2 separate regions of the Homo sapiens genome follow, and region 2 is linked to region 1. Evidence: fine-mapped expression QTL. Tissue or cell type: T cells. Region 1 holds a variant in brackets; the other region holds the start of a gene. All regions are shown on one strand. Distances are from middle to middle.

Evidence for each region. PIP is the estimated chance that this variant, and not a neighbour inherited with it, causes the effect.
Region 2: it holds the start of INSIG2, and the variant in region 1 is fine-mapped to the expression of INSIG2 in T cells (TOPMed, PIP 0.97).

The regions. Positions count from the first base shown.
Region 1 is chr2:118,164,372-118,172,574 of GRCh38, reverse strand. No RefSeq gene overlaps it. Among named protein-coding and RNA genes, the nearest start is that of THORLNC, 18 kb to the left of the region's middle. RefSeq lists an enhancer at 3,087-3,136. The variant C/T (reference allele first, on the strand shown) is at 3,196.
Region 2 is chr2:118,084,466-118,092,642 of GRCh38, reverse strand. INSIG2 (insulin induced gene 2) reads right to left here and starts at 4,172. Exons shown (of 6, transcript NM_016133.4): 1 at 4,102-4,172. LOC107985940 (a long non-coding RNA gene) reads left to right here and starts at 4,212. Exons shown (of 3, transcript XR_001739662.3): 1 at 4,212-4,392. RefSeq lists enhancers at 4,218-4,407, 4,418-4,467.

The DNA.
Region 1 (8,203 bases):
TGACCTCTGGCAGTTTACTTCACCTCACTAAACTTTATCTCTGCAATGGAAATAAAAATGCCACCCCATATGTGTCATGTGTAAGGATAAAAAGAAATGTAATGAGATTATGTATGCAAAGGTGGGCAGAAAATGCACGTGGACTGTAGAAGGTGCTGGGCTGGAAATGGGGCACAGAAAGAGAGAAGTCCGAAGGAGCCAGAGGGAGAGGTCGTCTGGCGGTGCAAGGGAGCACACTTGACATATCCATAATTGTTCATTCATCCTGTTATTCTTGTCACTCCACAAATATTCAGGGAGCATATACAAATGGGGAACAAGTCAGACACAAGGTCTGCCCTCATGGAGCTGACAGTTTAACAGGGATACAGATGCTTAAAGAAATGATGTGAATTCAGCTCAGTGCTCTGAGACACGAGGGAGAGTTGGGACATGTCATGGAGCTGACAGTTTAACAGGGATACAGATGCTTAAAGAAATGATGTGAATTCAGCTCAGTGCTCTGAGACACGAGGGAGAGTTGGGACATGGGAGTGGCTCCTCATTCAGACAGGTGGGTGTAGAGAGACTTGTTAGAGGCCAGTGACATCTCAGCTTTCAGAAGCAAGTAGAGTCATCCAGGTTGGTGGGGTGGGGAAGAGGAGATGGGATTTGAGCTTTGTAGGAAGGCTTGCATCTCAGGCCTGCGCTCCCCCAGAGAGTGAGGGAAAGAAGTGACCAGAAGACAGCCTCATAAGCCATGATCATGAGTCTGACCCACATGGTAATAATCACCATAAGGTTTCAAGTGGGAGAGTGACACACATGGTCAGATTTGCATTTCAGTAGCAGATTTGGGTGGAGCAGGGCAAGATAGCCAGGGAGACAAGTAAGGAGAGAGTTGCAGGAAATAAAGAAAGGTAGAGAGCATTGGACACTACAGAAAGCAGAATATTACTCAAAGTGCTCATGAGAGATCGGAGTTAAAGGTAGGGTGAGGAGGCAGTCAATGGTGGCCCCCAGGTGTCTGGCTGAGGCAGCTAGGTAAATGGTGGGACCATTGACTAATATGAGGTTTTGGAGAAAGATCTTGAGTTTAGCTTTGGATATATCAAGATCGGGGTTCCTGAGAGATATCCAAGTGGAGTTGTCTAAGAACAGATGAGTACGTGGACTCCAAACCAGGAAATTTTGGATTGGAGACAGAAGTTTGGCATTATGTCAGCCCCCAGATAATGAATGTTTGCTGGGCTGCTGATGACGTTCTACAGAGAGCAGGGGCAACAAGGAAGAGAGGACAGCCAGCAAAGCCCCTCTAACAGGGCAGAAGAGGATGTGTCATTACAAGAGCCTGGAAATTAGCTAGAGAGATGGGAGGGAACCCCACAGAGAGAGCAGTGTTACAGAAGCCAAGGAAAAAGAGGATATCAACAGGGTGGGGTAAATTGATTTTGCTATGATGATATCTGACTTGAGAAGTACTTATTGGATAGTCCAAAGTGGAAGTCTCAGTGACCTTGGCAAGTTTCAGTGGAGTGGTAGGAGTGGAATCCAGATTGTCAAGATGAAGGAGGAGAATGTAGGAGGTAGGAAGGAGGAGACAGCAAGTGCAGGCAAAGCTTAGGAGGCACTTACTGTAAACATTAAGATGAAAGATAGGAAAGTACCTGGAAAGAAATACCTATAGGCTGAGTTTTGGGAATGATGCTTTTTGTTTGTTGTGTAATATGGGAGAGATTTGATCATGTCTTAATACATCTAAGAAAAAGCCAATACAAGAAACGAAAAGTTTTAAAGATGTAGAAGAGAGGGAGGAAATAATAATAATAGTAGAGGCAAATCTCTGAGGAGATGGATGGAGATTGGATCCAGGAGGTATTTCACTGGGACAAGAATGAAAGAAGATGCTGTATATGTTAGAAACTCTGTCGGGTTCAGGTAACAGTACACCCTCTGGGATTGTAACTTGGAAAGTAGCTTGGACATTTGAAAGTCAAACAGTAGCTTTTTGCTACCCTTAATTAAACTGTTCAATGTTGGCAGGGCTCAGAATCAACAGCTCTGTAATTTGTTTCACCTTTGCCTCATGGTTGCAGGATGGCTGCAGCAGCTCTAAGCATCACATCCTTACATACCCCATTCATAACCAGGAACCATGTGTCCGTAAAGGGCATAATTCTCTTCATGCACTTTTCTCTTAGAAGAAAGAAAAACATTTTTCAGAAGCACTTCACAAGACTTCTTGACACATCTCATTATGTAAAATTGGGACTTAACAGTCACGCACAGACCAAGGCTGGGCCCAGTTCCCACCCAGCACACGAACAGAATCAGTGCTTCAGTGAGAAAGAAGAAAGGGGCAACTCTGGGTTAGAAATAGCCATGTCTGCCTCAAAGGTACAGATGAAGTAGGTCAGTGGGCTTGGGAGCAGAAAAAATGAATGAATTCTCTGGAAATGTCAATTTTCCCTCTAAGTTTGTCATCTGCTAAGAGTGAGAGGGAAGGGGTTGTGGGTGTGAGTTCTGATGGGAGTGAAGAGATCTAAAATAACCACAGCAGAGAAGCAGGGGGTGAACTCACTGGAAAAAAAAAAACATCAAAAATTCCAAGAAGGTCCTCCATGGGGAAAATGATTGGGGAAGAAATTACAGACCAAAGGAAAAAAGAAAGGAAGGGAAGATCCACTAAAGGACAGCTCTGCCCCAAGTGGCCATGTACACCAGGGTTTCCCTGCCTCGCACTGTTGGCATTCTGGGCTGATTAATTACTTGTTGCAGGGCTGTCCTGGGCACTGTAGCATGTTGGCAGCATCCCTTGCCTCTACCCACTAGATGCCAGTAGCAAACCCCACTTCCAATCCTGACTACCAAAAATGTCTCCAGGCATTGCCCAGTACCCCATGGTGGGAGGAGGCAAAATCATCCCAGTTGAAAACCACCTATGTACACTATCTTATTTAGTCCTTCAGAGCAGAGATGGTGTTTCTGTTTTTGAGGATGAGGTTAAAAGCCCAAGGACACATAGCTGAGAAGAAATGGAACCGGAATTGAAGCCGGCTCTGCCAGAGACTGCATTCTTCCCTCTGACCCTGAGCTCCACAGCCTGCAGTGCACCACCGGCACCAAACAGGAAGTCACACCCATGGGCCGGCCTCTGCCTTGCCACTGGGGCTCTACACCCCATAGAGTAACTTTGAGGAGTAATCTGTTTTTTCC[C/T]GGAGAGAATTAGAGAACTCATAAAAATTAAATCTTTACAAGAGCTCTATCTCCTCCTTTCAAGGAAGTCAATCACTTGGGTTAAAAAAGAAAAAGAAAAAGAAAAAAAAATGTGGCAACATTTTCCCAAGGACTTAGGGCAGAAAACCACCATCCAGAAAGGAAAATCTTTGAAGTTGGAATGTGCTCTAGGCTGCCTCTTTAAATGAAAAATGTTATATGCCTGGGAAACATTATATATGCCAAAGCAATACGAGGGCCTCACGGTAATAATGATAGCACCAACTCCATGCTTTCATCCCTGAGACTCTGTGAAGGGCCTTAAAAATGAAATTTTATACAAGTGCACACACACACACACACAATATTTGGAAAATTCACACATATATCACTTTGCCCACCTCTCCAATGAAGGTGGAATGTGGTGGCAGATGTTTCACAGCTGCCCGGCAACCACCCTCCAACAGTTTAGGACAGGAAGCTAAGGACACCCGATCCAAAAGGAATTGCAGGGAGAGGTCAGGGAGGTAAAAGTTAATCCTGAGAATTGGGATTCTGCCAAAGCTTGGGATACCCTCCACGCCATTGCCTCATCCTTTATTCTAAGAGACTGAATGAATCAAGTGACAGGCATCTATCTGCATGTGAGAGGCCATGCCCTCCCCATGAAGAGAGTTGGAACTAGGAAAGATCCTTACATTTGAGGAATACATACTATACATACAGCCTGCAGCCCAGCCTGAGAAAGCCAAGCCTATAGATTTGGCATCTAGGCCAGTTACATATCTTTACTCTGCTGAATAGCCATAGACAGAGTCCCTATTGCATAGATGGCTGCCCTTGCCTCTACCCTTTCATAAAAGATAAATCATTTCATAAAGAATGCCTCACTGCCTGGGTGCAGTGGCTCACAACTGTAATCCCAGAACTTTGTGGGGCCCAGGCAGATGGATCACCTGAGGTCAGGGGTTCAAGACCAGCCAACATGGTAAAACCCCATCTCTACTAAAAATACAAAAATTAGCTGGGCATGGTGGCATGCGCCTGTAATCCCAGCTTCTTGGGAGGCTGGGGCACAAGAATCACTTGAACCAGGAAGGTGGAGGTTACAGTTAGCCAGTGATCTGAAATCGGGCCCCTGCCCTCCAGCCTGGGCAACAGCAACACAGTGAGACTTCATCTAAAAAAAAATAAAAATAAAAATAAATAAAAAATAAAAAGAAGGCCTCACTGATGTGTGTGGATGGTAGAGGAGGAAGAGGGGACAAGGGGTGGTATCTTGTTTAACTAGGTCAGGCAGTGCATTTATAACCACAGAGTGAGGGGAAAGAAATGAATAACTGCAGAGCCCCAGCTCATGCCAGGGCCTGGGCTAGGAGCTTTACCTGTTGTCGTGTCATTAATCTTTCTGGGTTTCACTATCTGAACTTTGCAAATAAAGAAACTGAGTCCTGGAGAGGTTACGTAAGTTGGGGTCATACTCCCCAAGAGCCAGGATTCAAGCTCAGGTCAGCCAACCCCAAAGTGAACATGCTTGTGTTACCACCATATCTGGACATCGAGTATGCTAGCGCCCCAGAAATCTCCTCCGTGCTCTCTCCAAGTCATTACGCACCCACCCCTTACCTCCAGGTAACCACTGTTCTTCCTTCTATTGCTAAAGTTTAAATTTTGCATGTTTTTGAACAACATATAAATGGAGTCACATAGTATGTATTCTTTGGCATCTGATTTCTTCAGCTCAATAATTTATGAGATCCATTCATGTTTTTGTGCCTAATAGTAACTTGCTCATTCCCATTGCTATATAGGATTCTACTGGGTGAGTGTATTACAATTTATGTATCCATTCTATTATTTATGAACATTTGAGGAATATTCCATTTAGGAATATTATGAATACTACTGCTACAAACATTATTTTGTTTTGCTGTTTTTTTGAGACGGAGTCTCACTCAGTCACCAAGGCTGGCATGCAATGGTGCAATCACGGCTCACCACAACCTCCTGGGCTCAGGAGATTTTCCCTCCTCTGCCTCCCAAAGTGCTGGGATTACAGGTGTGAGCCATCATGCCCAGCTGAACATTCTTAACATCTAATGGGTGGCCACACACTTGAATATGTATACCTAGAGATAAAATTGCTGAATCATTAAGAAACATAATTGCTCATTTTTACTAGGTAATGCCAGTCTTCCAAAACGTTGTATTAACATTCCCACCAACAATGTGTAAAAGTTTCATCTGCTCCACAACTTCCAAAAATTGGTATTTTGAGTTTCTTTATAATTTTAGCTATTCTAATGGCTGTGTTGCTATGTCACTGTTGTTATAATTTTCTTCATAACTAATAAATATGAGGATCTTTTAATATATTTATTGGCCACTTGAACCATTCCCTCTTTTGTAAAGTTGTTGTCTGTTTTTGTGTATTGATCTGTAGAAGATCTTTGTATATTGTGTGAAAGTCCTTCGTTGGATATATGTATTGCAAATATCTTTTCTCATCCTGTGGCTTATCTGTCCATTCTTTGGTGTCTTTTAGGGCTTTTTTGTTTTTGTTTTTCACTACATTTTATTGTGGTAAGAATAGAACATGAGATGTACCCCCTTAACAAATGGCAAGTATACAGTGCCTTATTGTTAACTATAGATGCAATGTTATACAGCAGCTCTCCAGAGCTTATTTATCTTGCTTAACTGAAACTTTATGCCCAATGATCAGTAACTCTCCATTTCCTCCTCCCCCAGAGTCTGGGAATCATCATTCTACTCCAGAGTCTGGGAATCATCATTCTACTCTGATCCTATGAATTTGACTATTTTAAATATCTCCTATAAGTAGAATCATGTAACATTTGTCTTTCTGTTACTAGCTTATTTCACTAAGCATAATGTCCTCAAGGTTAATCCATGTTGTTACATATTGCACAATATCCTTCTTTTTGAAAGCTGAATAGTATCATATCCAATGTATATAACACATATCCTTCATTCATCTATCCATGAACATTTAAGTTGTTTCCACATCTTAGCTATTGTGAAAAGTGCTATAGTGAACATTGGGGCATCAATATCACTTTGAGATCCTTGTTTTAACTGTTTTGATAAATACTCAGAATTGGGATTGCTAAATTAAATGGCAGTTCTATTTTTTTAAGAGCCTTCATGCAGTTTTCCATAGTGGCTGCACTATTTTGCATTCCTACCAACAGGGTGAAAGTGTTCCAACTTTTTCACATCCTTGCCAACACTTGTGGTCTTTTGGTTTTTTGATAATAACCATCCTGAGAGGTGTGAGGTGATATCTCATTGTAGTTTTGACTTGCATTTCTCTGATGATTAGTTACTTTAAGCACTTTTTCATGTATGGGTTGGTTGCTTGTAAGTCTTCTTTGGAGAAATATCTATTCAAGTCCTTCAGCTATTTTTTAATCAGGTTATTTGGTTTTTTACTATTGAGGTATAGGAGCCCCTTTATCAAATGTTTGGTTTACAAATATTTACTGTATTAGTCCATCATGCTGCCGATAAAGACATACCCAAGATTGGGCAATTTAACAAATAAAAAAGTTTATTGGACTTACAGTTCCACATGGCTGGGGAGGCCTCACAATCATAGTGGAAAGCAAGGAGGAGCAAGTCACATCTTACATGGATGGCAGCAGGCAAAGACAGAGAGAGCCTGTACAGAGAAACTCCCATTTTTAAAATCATCAGATCTCATGAGACCCATTCACTATCACAGGAAGAGCACCGGAAAGAGCTGCCCCCATGATTCAGTCATCTCCTACAGGGTCCCACCACAAAATGTGGGAATTATGGGAGCTACAAGACAAGATTTGGGTGGGGACACGAAGCCAAATCATATCATTCTTCCCCTGTTCCCTCCCAAATCTCATTTCTTCACATTTCAATACCAATCATTTCTTCCCAACAGTCCCCCAAAGACTCAACTCATTTCAGCATTAACTCAAAAGTCCACAGTCCAAAGTCTCATCTGAGACAAGGAAAGTCCCTTCTGCCTATAAGCCTCTAAAATCAAAAGCAGGTTACTTACTTCCTAGTTACAATGGGGGTACAGTCATTGGGTAAATACAGCCATTCCAAATGGGAGAAATTGGCCAAAACAAAGTGGCTACAGGCCCCATGCAAGTCCAAAATCCAGCAGGGCAGTCAAATCTTAAAGCTCCTAAATGATCTCCTTTGACTCCATGTCTCACATTCAAGTCACGCTGATGCAAGAGGTGGGTTCCCATGGTCTGGGGCAGCTCCGTCCCTGTGGCTTTGCTGGTAAAACCTCCCTCCCAGCTGCCTTCATGGGCCGGCATTGAGTGTCTGTGGCATTTCCAGGCACACAGTGCAAGCTGTCAGTGGATCTACCACTCTGGGATCTGGAGGATGGTGGCCTTCTTCTCACAGCTCCACTAGGTGGTGGTCCAGTAGGGACTCTGTGTGGGGGCTCCCACCCCACATTTCCCTTTTGCACCATACTAGCAGAGGTTCTCCATGAGTATCCTGCCCCTACAGCAAACTTCTGCCTGGACATCCAGATGTTTCCATACATCTGAAATCTAGGCAGAGGTTCCCAAACCTCAATTCTTGACTTCTGTGCACTCACAGGGTCAACACTATGTGGAAGCTGCCAAGACTTGAGGTTTGCACACTCTGAAGTCACAGCCCAAGCTCTACATTGACCCCTTTCAGCCGCAGCTGCAGCGGCTGGGACACAGGGCACCAAGTCCCTAAGCTGCACACAGCATGGAGATTCTGGGCCCGGCCCACAAAACCACTTTTTCCTCCTAGGTCTCAGGGCCTGTCATGGGAGGGACTGCCACAGATGTGTTTGACATGCCCTGGGGACATTTTCCCCATTGTCTTGGTGATTAACATTTGCCTCCTCATTACTTATGCAAATTTCTGCAGCCAGCTTGAATTTCTCCCCCAGAAAATGGGATTTTCTTTTCTACTGCATTGTCAGGCTGCAAATTTTCCAAACTTTTATGCT
Region 2 (8,177 bases), 80 kb after region 1:
GACATGCAGTATCAAAACTGAAATTCCACTTCAGGTCTGATTCCAAAACCCATCCTCTTGCCTCTATACCTTGAATTCCATTCCATCTCAACTGCTCAGACTTCTTTTTCGGCAGATGGTTCTATATAAAAGTGTTTGGTTACTGAAAAGATGGTTAGATGTTGAAATACCATCTCAACTATAATACACTCTCAGATAGTAAGCCAAAACAAGCAGGTGACTATACAATTGCACAAAGATGATGAGAATAAATGTAAAATCACCTTGAAATTTTCTTTAATAGTACTAGATCAAGGTGTGAAAATGTTTTAAAGTAAAAAGAAAAAATAGCAAACTAACACTCTGTATAAGAACATTAGTTGACTCTTTACTTCCCCAGATCCCAGTAGACACAGCACGTTGCCCTCACGTGCTGCTAACAGCTGCTAGAAGATGGGCATACTTTGAGTAACCCACATTGAGACAGCGTATCATTTGTTTCTGTTTGTGATTTTTCCAAAAGGGAATTAATGGAAAGGGGTATTTTATGTTTAATAGTATTTTTAAAAAGGAAAATAACTTCAGTTTAAAAAAGCTATTTCAGTCATGCTAGCCCCCATCTCACACTGACCAGCATTTGTCAAAGGGCACTGATATTTTAGGCAGGACAATTATTTGCTGTGTGAGACTGTTCTAAGCATTGCAAAACATTTAGCATCCCTGGCTCCCACCCACTAAATGCCCCCTCCCCTATTTGTGATAACCAAAACTGTCCCCACAATGAGAGCCACTGATTGCTACAGACTTCATTCTATTTCAAGACAGCTAGAGACTTTCTGTTTATTTATGTTTTCTACCACAGCTGCTTATTTAACCTTTCCTGGCAGTGCTTGTTTAGTTTTCTACTTCGCCCCAAAAGTTTTCCTTAAAAATAACACATTTGCTTGACATTTATTTGAATGAGATTCAAAAAGCTAATTTTGTAACTACATCATAATACAATAGTATATAATTACTGGTGACAAAAAATAAAAGCTTTAAGAAATAGCAGGGAACTGGGAAATCATCTATTCCAAGGGGTATGAGACCCCCATGCGAAACAAAACAAAAAAGTTGTATATATATGCATTTTTTTCTGGGATGAAAGTTCCATAATTTATATAAAGTACTCAAAAAAGTCCATGATCCAAACAAAGTAAAGAATCAGTAATCTAACAATTCTCTCACTCTATTAGCAAGGCCAATGACATGCAAAGTAGTCAACTGGATTAACAAGATTAAGACAGTACCATCAGTTCTTATTACCACAAACGTGTATAGTGAATGCCAGAAAATGACCAGACTCATCAAAGGGATAGAGGCGTCCACAAAACCATTTCACCCCCTACCATGCAACAATGAAATTCCTTTAAAAGCATGTTTATAATATCAGTTGCACACTAGAGGAGTCAGAGGAGTGGGTTATTTTCAAGGGAAAGTAAGCTCCCTTAGTTTACTTTGAAGTTTGTTTTTCTGATTTTGTACTGATACCATTTTCTTAAAACAAAGTGGATCTATATCTTTAAATATTAGTCTTACATTAATGATAAACTTGATGCTCCAAAATTTTTTTTAAAAATCTATATTTGAAAAATTTAGATTACTTGACAAATAATTTGCTGACCAGGGAAAAAGTCTCTGGTATAAAGATACTGTTTAAAGGACAATATGTCAATAGATTCTCGAAAACAATCTTGGTAAATAGGCAGGTGTTGTTAGTTTCCATTTTACAAAATAAAATAGGTTAAGTAACTTTCCAAGATCACAGAACTGTTACCAGGTAGCACCAGGACTAGGCTCACCCACTCTGACCCCATGTCCGGAGTTCTTCCTGCTTCACCACACTGCTTCCATTCACAAACATGGTACAAAACAATTTAAGTGCCACACAAGAAACCGTTTTTAAAATCATGTTGGTAAACTACTATTAATACCAAAATAATGTTTTCAACAATTCACAAAGAAAAACTTTCCACCAGACTTGAAAAATTCTACGCTGAGCCCTGGCCTAAAATTTCTGGAAAGTACAATACTAAACAAAAAGAAAAAAAGTTGAAATAATTTGCATAGATCAATGATGAATCATCAATACTGGAAAAACATTATTCCAGGTGTATGGCTGCCTATTAATGGATTGATATTATTACTTTCAGGTTAAAAAAGAGTTATAAGTGATTATGAGCTTCGTGAATAAAAATCAAGGTTCATGTTGGCCACTGAAACAACTTAGAGGCAACAAGCATTTGAAAACAAACACACATACAAAATCTTCTAGTAACCTTAAGAACCTGTTGCATTGTAACAACTGCAACACCCCCTAAAACCAAATGACAAGACCATTCCTCTTCCAATGATTAGCCGTAAAAGAAGTATTTTTACTCCCTCAGATAACCCTGTTTCTTCAGGTGCTTAGGTCACGTAAGCTACTAAATAATAAAGTTAAATTACTACCTCACATATTTTTCATCATATGCTCTCTTAATTAGAATAGCATTCTTGAAATAGAATAAGCACTAACATTAGAAAAAAACAGACTTAAATCAATGCAACAGTTTAATGCTCCCTAAATAAAAACACATCTACATGTATCATGGGCTAGAGACGTTAAAAATTTCTAGGAAGAAAAGCAATATTTGCCTTATAAACACTGCAACTCTTTCCTCTCAACATTAAAACCCAAACATAGAAACCAGTAAGTTAGCTGCATTTACAGCCCCTTACAGGTTTTAAATGTCACATCTCAGTGCCTAAAAAAGTTACTCCATCGTTTCGAGATAAGTTTCTGAGAACAAAGAAAACTCTTTAAACTACTGAACTGCATTTTATTCTTTCCTTTTCCGTGTGACCATCTGCAAAAGCAACAGTTGTCAGTTAAACAGAATCAACCTCTTTCCCGAGTGGACATGATTCACAGCTTGGTCACTGTACAGCAGATGTGAACTGAGAACTACGACATAACACAATGACAAAACACAGTACTGAGCACAAAGTACAGGGAAAGAATGAAAGACAGAAAACAGGAAGAGCACACGTCTGATTTTTGTTTTCTTTGGGGCCCCCATTAGTAGCATTCCCTTCATCCATCTTCATTCAGTGGTTCACTATCAGGGCCAAACCCAAAAGTTACAAAACACCATCTAGCTACTGTCTGGCTGCTTTTATTTTTTCTGCACCAGGACGGGAGCACGCATTCCCCTGCAGTCCTCAGCTCCACCGCAATACTGATACCAAACAGTTTCAGTGGCCCAGCTGCCAAGCCTAACCATTCCTTTTTAAAGCATTTCTTCATCAATCCTACAAAACAGCAAGTTCTTCATGGTATATTTTCCTAGAGCATCTAGCTAATATCATACTTTAACAACTTTTTCCAACGTTAACTGGACATGGGTCATTATCACTTAAGTGTTAGCGCCATTGCCCGCGCCCACTCCCATAATCCACACTGCTTTCCTTCTCCATATTGCCAATCCCCACTAAGCAACCCTAAAATCTAGTAATTATCATCAAATCCACTTCTAGGCCCTGGCAAGAATTATTTGGCTTTACCGAAACACCTATTCCATAGGTAACCAATTCCAGTCAAAAATGCCAGAGTATTACTCCTCAACCCAATGCCCTATCTCCTTAGTGGATTATAAACTTACTACGACAACCTGTCTTCTTTGGATCCAATCCCCGCCCAAGTCTGAGTCTTCTCTCCCAGGCTACAAGCCCCCAAGTCCTGGCAGCTCTATGCTTGACAGCTCGCTGACCTCCACCTCATCAGACCATTGGGTCGCCCTTCTCGCCGTCCTCCAGCCTTCTTCCCGCTCAGACACTCATCCACTGTCCGGGGAGCCTCGACCCCTCCTATACCCCCTCCCCGATCCCGCAGTCCCCTTCTGGACCTTGCGGACCCCTCTCAGGTAAGCGGAGCCCCTTGCCCTGCAGGCCCATCAGTGGTCCTGGCTCCCCGCACCTGCCACCAGGGTTCCCAGGCTGCAAAAACACAAGTAGTTCTTCTTCCCAAGGGCCACCCTCCTCCTCAGGCCGCTTTCCTCAGCACCACGTCACCCGCGCTTCGCCGGGAGACCCCCAACTCACCCCCGCCTCCGCCATCTTCTGGGACCAGCCCCCGTACCCCCTACCGCCTCTTCCTCCTCCACTCCCACAACTCCGCCCGAGCTCCACTGCGCCTGTGCGGCCAACGAGGCCGCGCGCAGGCGATCGGGGCAGAAGAGCTTCCGGTTCCTGCTGTCAATAAGACGTGGACCTGCGAGCCGGGGCAAAAGGGCTTCCGGTCTGCGGGAAACTGGAGGCTAGCGGTGGGCGTGGACCGTCGAGGTGACTGGCGGTTGTCGGATCTGCTGTTGTTTGCTGACCAGGCAGCCGTAGGTAATGACGGATGCCCAGACCCTGTGGGCGGAGTAAAGGAATCATGCACTGATACACGCACACTCACCGAGGGGCGCGTCCGTCTGCGTGCCCCTCATCTCGTAGCCGAAAGGAGCGCGTTCCGGGGCAGGCCTCCGGGTACTTCCCGCAGAGGACCGGGCTTTATACTCTTTGCTCCTTTTCCTCCCCTAGTAAGTCATAACTTATTTTGGGAGAAGGGCATAGTTATTTGTCTCTCGTCTCCATGCTACAGCACTTTATGTGCTTTTCATTCAAAATCGTTCCTCGAGGACGACCAAGTAATGTGATTTGGGGGACAGTTTTCATAGGAAGGGCTTTATAAGTTTACACCAACATAAAGAAAACTTAAAAACCTTATAACCGCTTATTTTTCAGAAGTATTATTTTTCATTTAATCTAAAACCATACTTTTAGAACATGAAACCAAGCCAAACAGATCTTTGCAGATTGTGCAAGCGAACTTTTTTTTTTGAATGAAAGTGGTGCCATCAATGCAAAAGCAAGCCCATATAAGTGCCGAAAGGTACTCGTCATAAGGAGGAGTTGCTTCCCTATTCTGAATTTTTATTTATTTTTATTTATTTATTTATTTGAGACGGAGTCTCTCTCTGTCACCCAGGCTGGAGTGCACTGGCATGATCTCGGCTCACTGCAACCTCTGCCTCCCGGGTTCAAGTGATTCTTCTGCCTCAGCCTCCCCAGTAGCTGGGACTACAGGTACATGCCACCATGTCTGCCTACTTTTTGTATTTTTAGTAGAGATGGAGTTTCATCATATTGGCCAGGCTGGTCTCAAACTCCTGACCTCGTGATTCGCCCGCCTCATCCTCCCAAAGTGCTGGGATTACAGGCGTGAGCTGCCCCCTGAATTTGTTTTTTTTAAGCAACTCTTTTTAAAAAGAGAGAAAAAATAATCTCTCTTGAGTGTATTAGTTATTGAGCTATTCCATTTGGAGGTGGCTTAACCCAAAACGTGTATGGATGTGGTAAGATTACAATGGACTTGAATGTTCTAGATGAAATCTGGGCCGAGAGTAATTGCATAATAGTTTTCCAAAGGACTGTCAGATGGTAAACTCCTTTCATTTACTTTGAACTGATAAACGATAAGATGGATTTTTGTTTTTTGACCTTTTTATCTACATTTACTTCTGAAAATTGAAAAAGAATCTGAATTCCAACAAAATGTTTCTAGGCAAGTATTTGCATGATGCTTCTCTAACATTTCCTATATCTTAGTGTTTTCTCTAATGTTTTCTGTAGCTTTCAAATTTCACTCCTGTAAGTTTTTACACTACCAGTAAGAAAGATCTGGGCCAATTATACAGAATGGACGATGATTTTTAAAAGAATAGAGAAAGCATTCAGAAAAGAGACAATAATTTGAAAATGTTCTGACATCATGTATTTCCTTAAAGCAATACAAGTCCTGTATGTCCAGTTCATGTCTACTCCAACCGAGCTTTTTTCAGACACTTAGAAATTGCCTTCAAGAAAATCCTTATGGAACATTGTAACCTAGAGGGGCATTTATTTTCGTTTAAATATGTATTAATTGCAAGTAGTGACAGAACCTAAAAAGCAAAAACCATATAGCACCAGTTCCAAGGTTCCTATATCTAATGCAGTTACTCCTACTGCAGTACAAGGAGGAATATAAAATCCCTAGGAGAAATACAAAAGGCCATTGTCTTCTTTGACCAGATTTGAGGAAAGTTTTCATGGAAGATGTGGTCTTTCAGTGGGCGTTGAGGGTAAATATGCAGATATGGTTAGCCTGTGCATTCTGGTGGAAGCTCAGAGTTGGAAAAACATGAAACAGATTGCAGAGTCTGGCATGTACAAAGAGGTATGGTGAGACATGTGAGTTCTAAACATCAGGCTCATGAATTTGGACTAAATTTTTGTTATGGAAACATGGAAATCCTAAATTAATTGATGCCAGAATATAAATTGGTTAAGAACATCAAGAAATCATAACAACTGAGTTATTTTGAAGTTGGTGTAATGTGGTCAATGGAACGCTGGTGAATGATCCTTGAAACCTGGATTGTATTTTAGCACTAAGACAGTATGCGTGTAATCACTTGCAATAAATTCATTTTTTTAGGCTTTCTTCTTTTCATCTGTAAAATGAGAGATTGGTTTAGATGATTTCTGAGGTCTTTTTTATAGGTAGAAGTATCAACAATTTGATAATTCTTGACCTCAAGAAAGGTTTTTTCCATTAGCTTTATATGTTGTTTGGTCTCCCAACCAAGAAGATCAAAGATAAGTTAGAAAACAAAAAGCCCTTTACTTAGCTAATACAAACACCCACAAAAGTTTATTGACTTTGTTGGAGTGAGATATTGTAGGAGTCACATTAATTATTGCCTACAGGTTGATGACTAAGCCATTCAGTAAGCCTCTAAGAACCTTGGACTTGGAAACATTACCCAAATTAAAAACATCCAAGATAATTTTTTTACTATTGCAATTTTCCTATTCAGTAGCTAGAACCCCACACACTACAGACCATTCTACTTTTTTGGTTTTGGTTTTTGTTACGGTGTTTTGATGTGAAATATGTTTGAGGGACATAGAAAGTCAAGGAATTTTGCTTTTTTGAGAGATCAGAATGGATTATTTACTAAGCCAGCTATCACCTGAGCACCTGGCAGGTACCAGACACTTGGCACTGGACTTTAGGAGGAAATCAATACAGACAAGCCACATTCCTTTGTGAAGCTAGAGTCCTGTGGGGGAAACACAGTAAATGGTGGAATTCATATGTAATTACAAACTGAGACAAGTGCCATGAAGATGGAACATCTCCATATTGTGATGGAGAATAAAGGGGAATACCTGGAGACCATGCGTGAGCTGAAGATTGAGAGGGATCTGCTAAGAGCAGGATGAAGAACAGGTGTGAGGGCACAAAAGCTGAAAAACTTGGTGCATTCTGGGAATTGAAAGAAAGGCAGAGCTGGGGGTAGCAATTGAAAAGAAAATTGCAAATTGAAGTTGTATTTTAACATCATGATTGATGGTAATCACTTTCTGTGTGCCAGGCACTGTGCTAAGTTAAATCTCATTTCACATGCTCAAAACCCATTTGAAATAGATACCAAATAGCAGATGAGAAATTAAGGCTAAAAGCAGTGATTCTTAACTTTGGCTGCATATTAGGATCACCCATAGATTTATTAAAAGTTCTAGTGCCCGAGCCCCACCTGAGCGTTGAGAATCACTGACTTAGTGTTAATCAGTCCAAGGTCACTTCATAGCTAAGTGGCAGAGAAGGCAGAAATTGAACCTAGATCTATTGGATTCTAAACCCTATGCTCTTAGTCACTCACTAGTGCCCTGTCAACATTCACAAGCACGTAGTAAGCAGCAGTTACATGTGGGAACTCTGTTAAACACTGAGACACAACAATGAATAAGACAGATCTCTTGCCATCAATAAATTCACAGCCTGGAAATGCAGAAGTTAGGTCAGCCCACCTCTACAGAAGCAAGTCAACTGAGAACTCTCAATGAGATCAGATATATTTTTCCTATTTTAAGCTAGATTGATGTAGGCAACTGATGACAGGGAATCTACGTGGGCAGCTAGTGCGATTGTCTGCTGAGAGGTGGTGCAAACTTAACAAAGGCAATGGCAGAGGATACAAAGAATCATCAGGACTTGATAACTGCTAATGTTAGGAGTGAAGAAAAGAAGGTGGAAGTTGATTTCAAAGTTTTGAGCCTGAGAGACTGAGTGAAAGTAACATCAT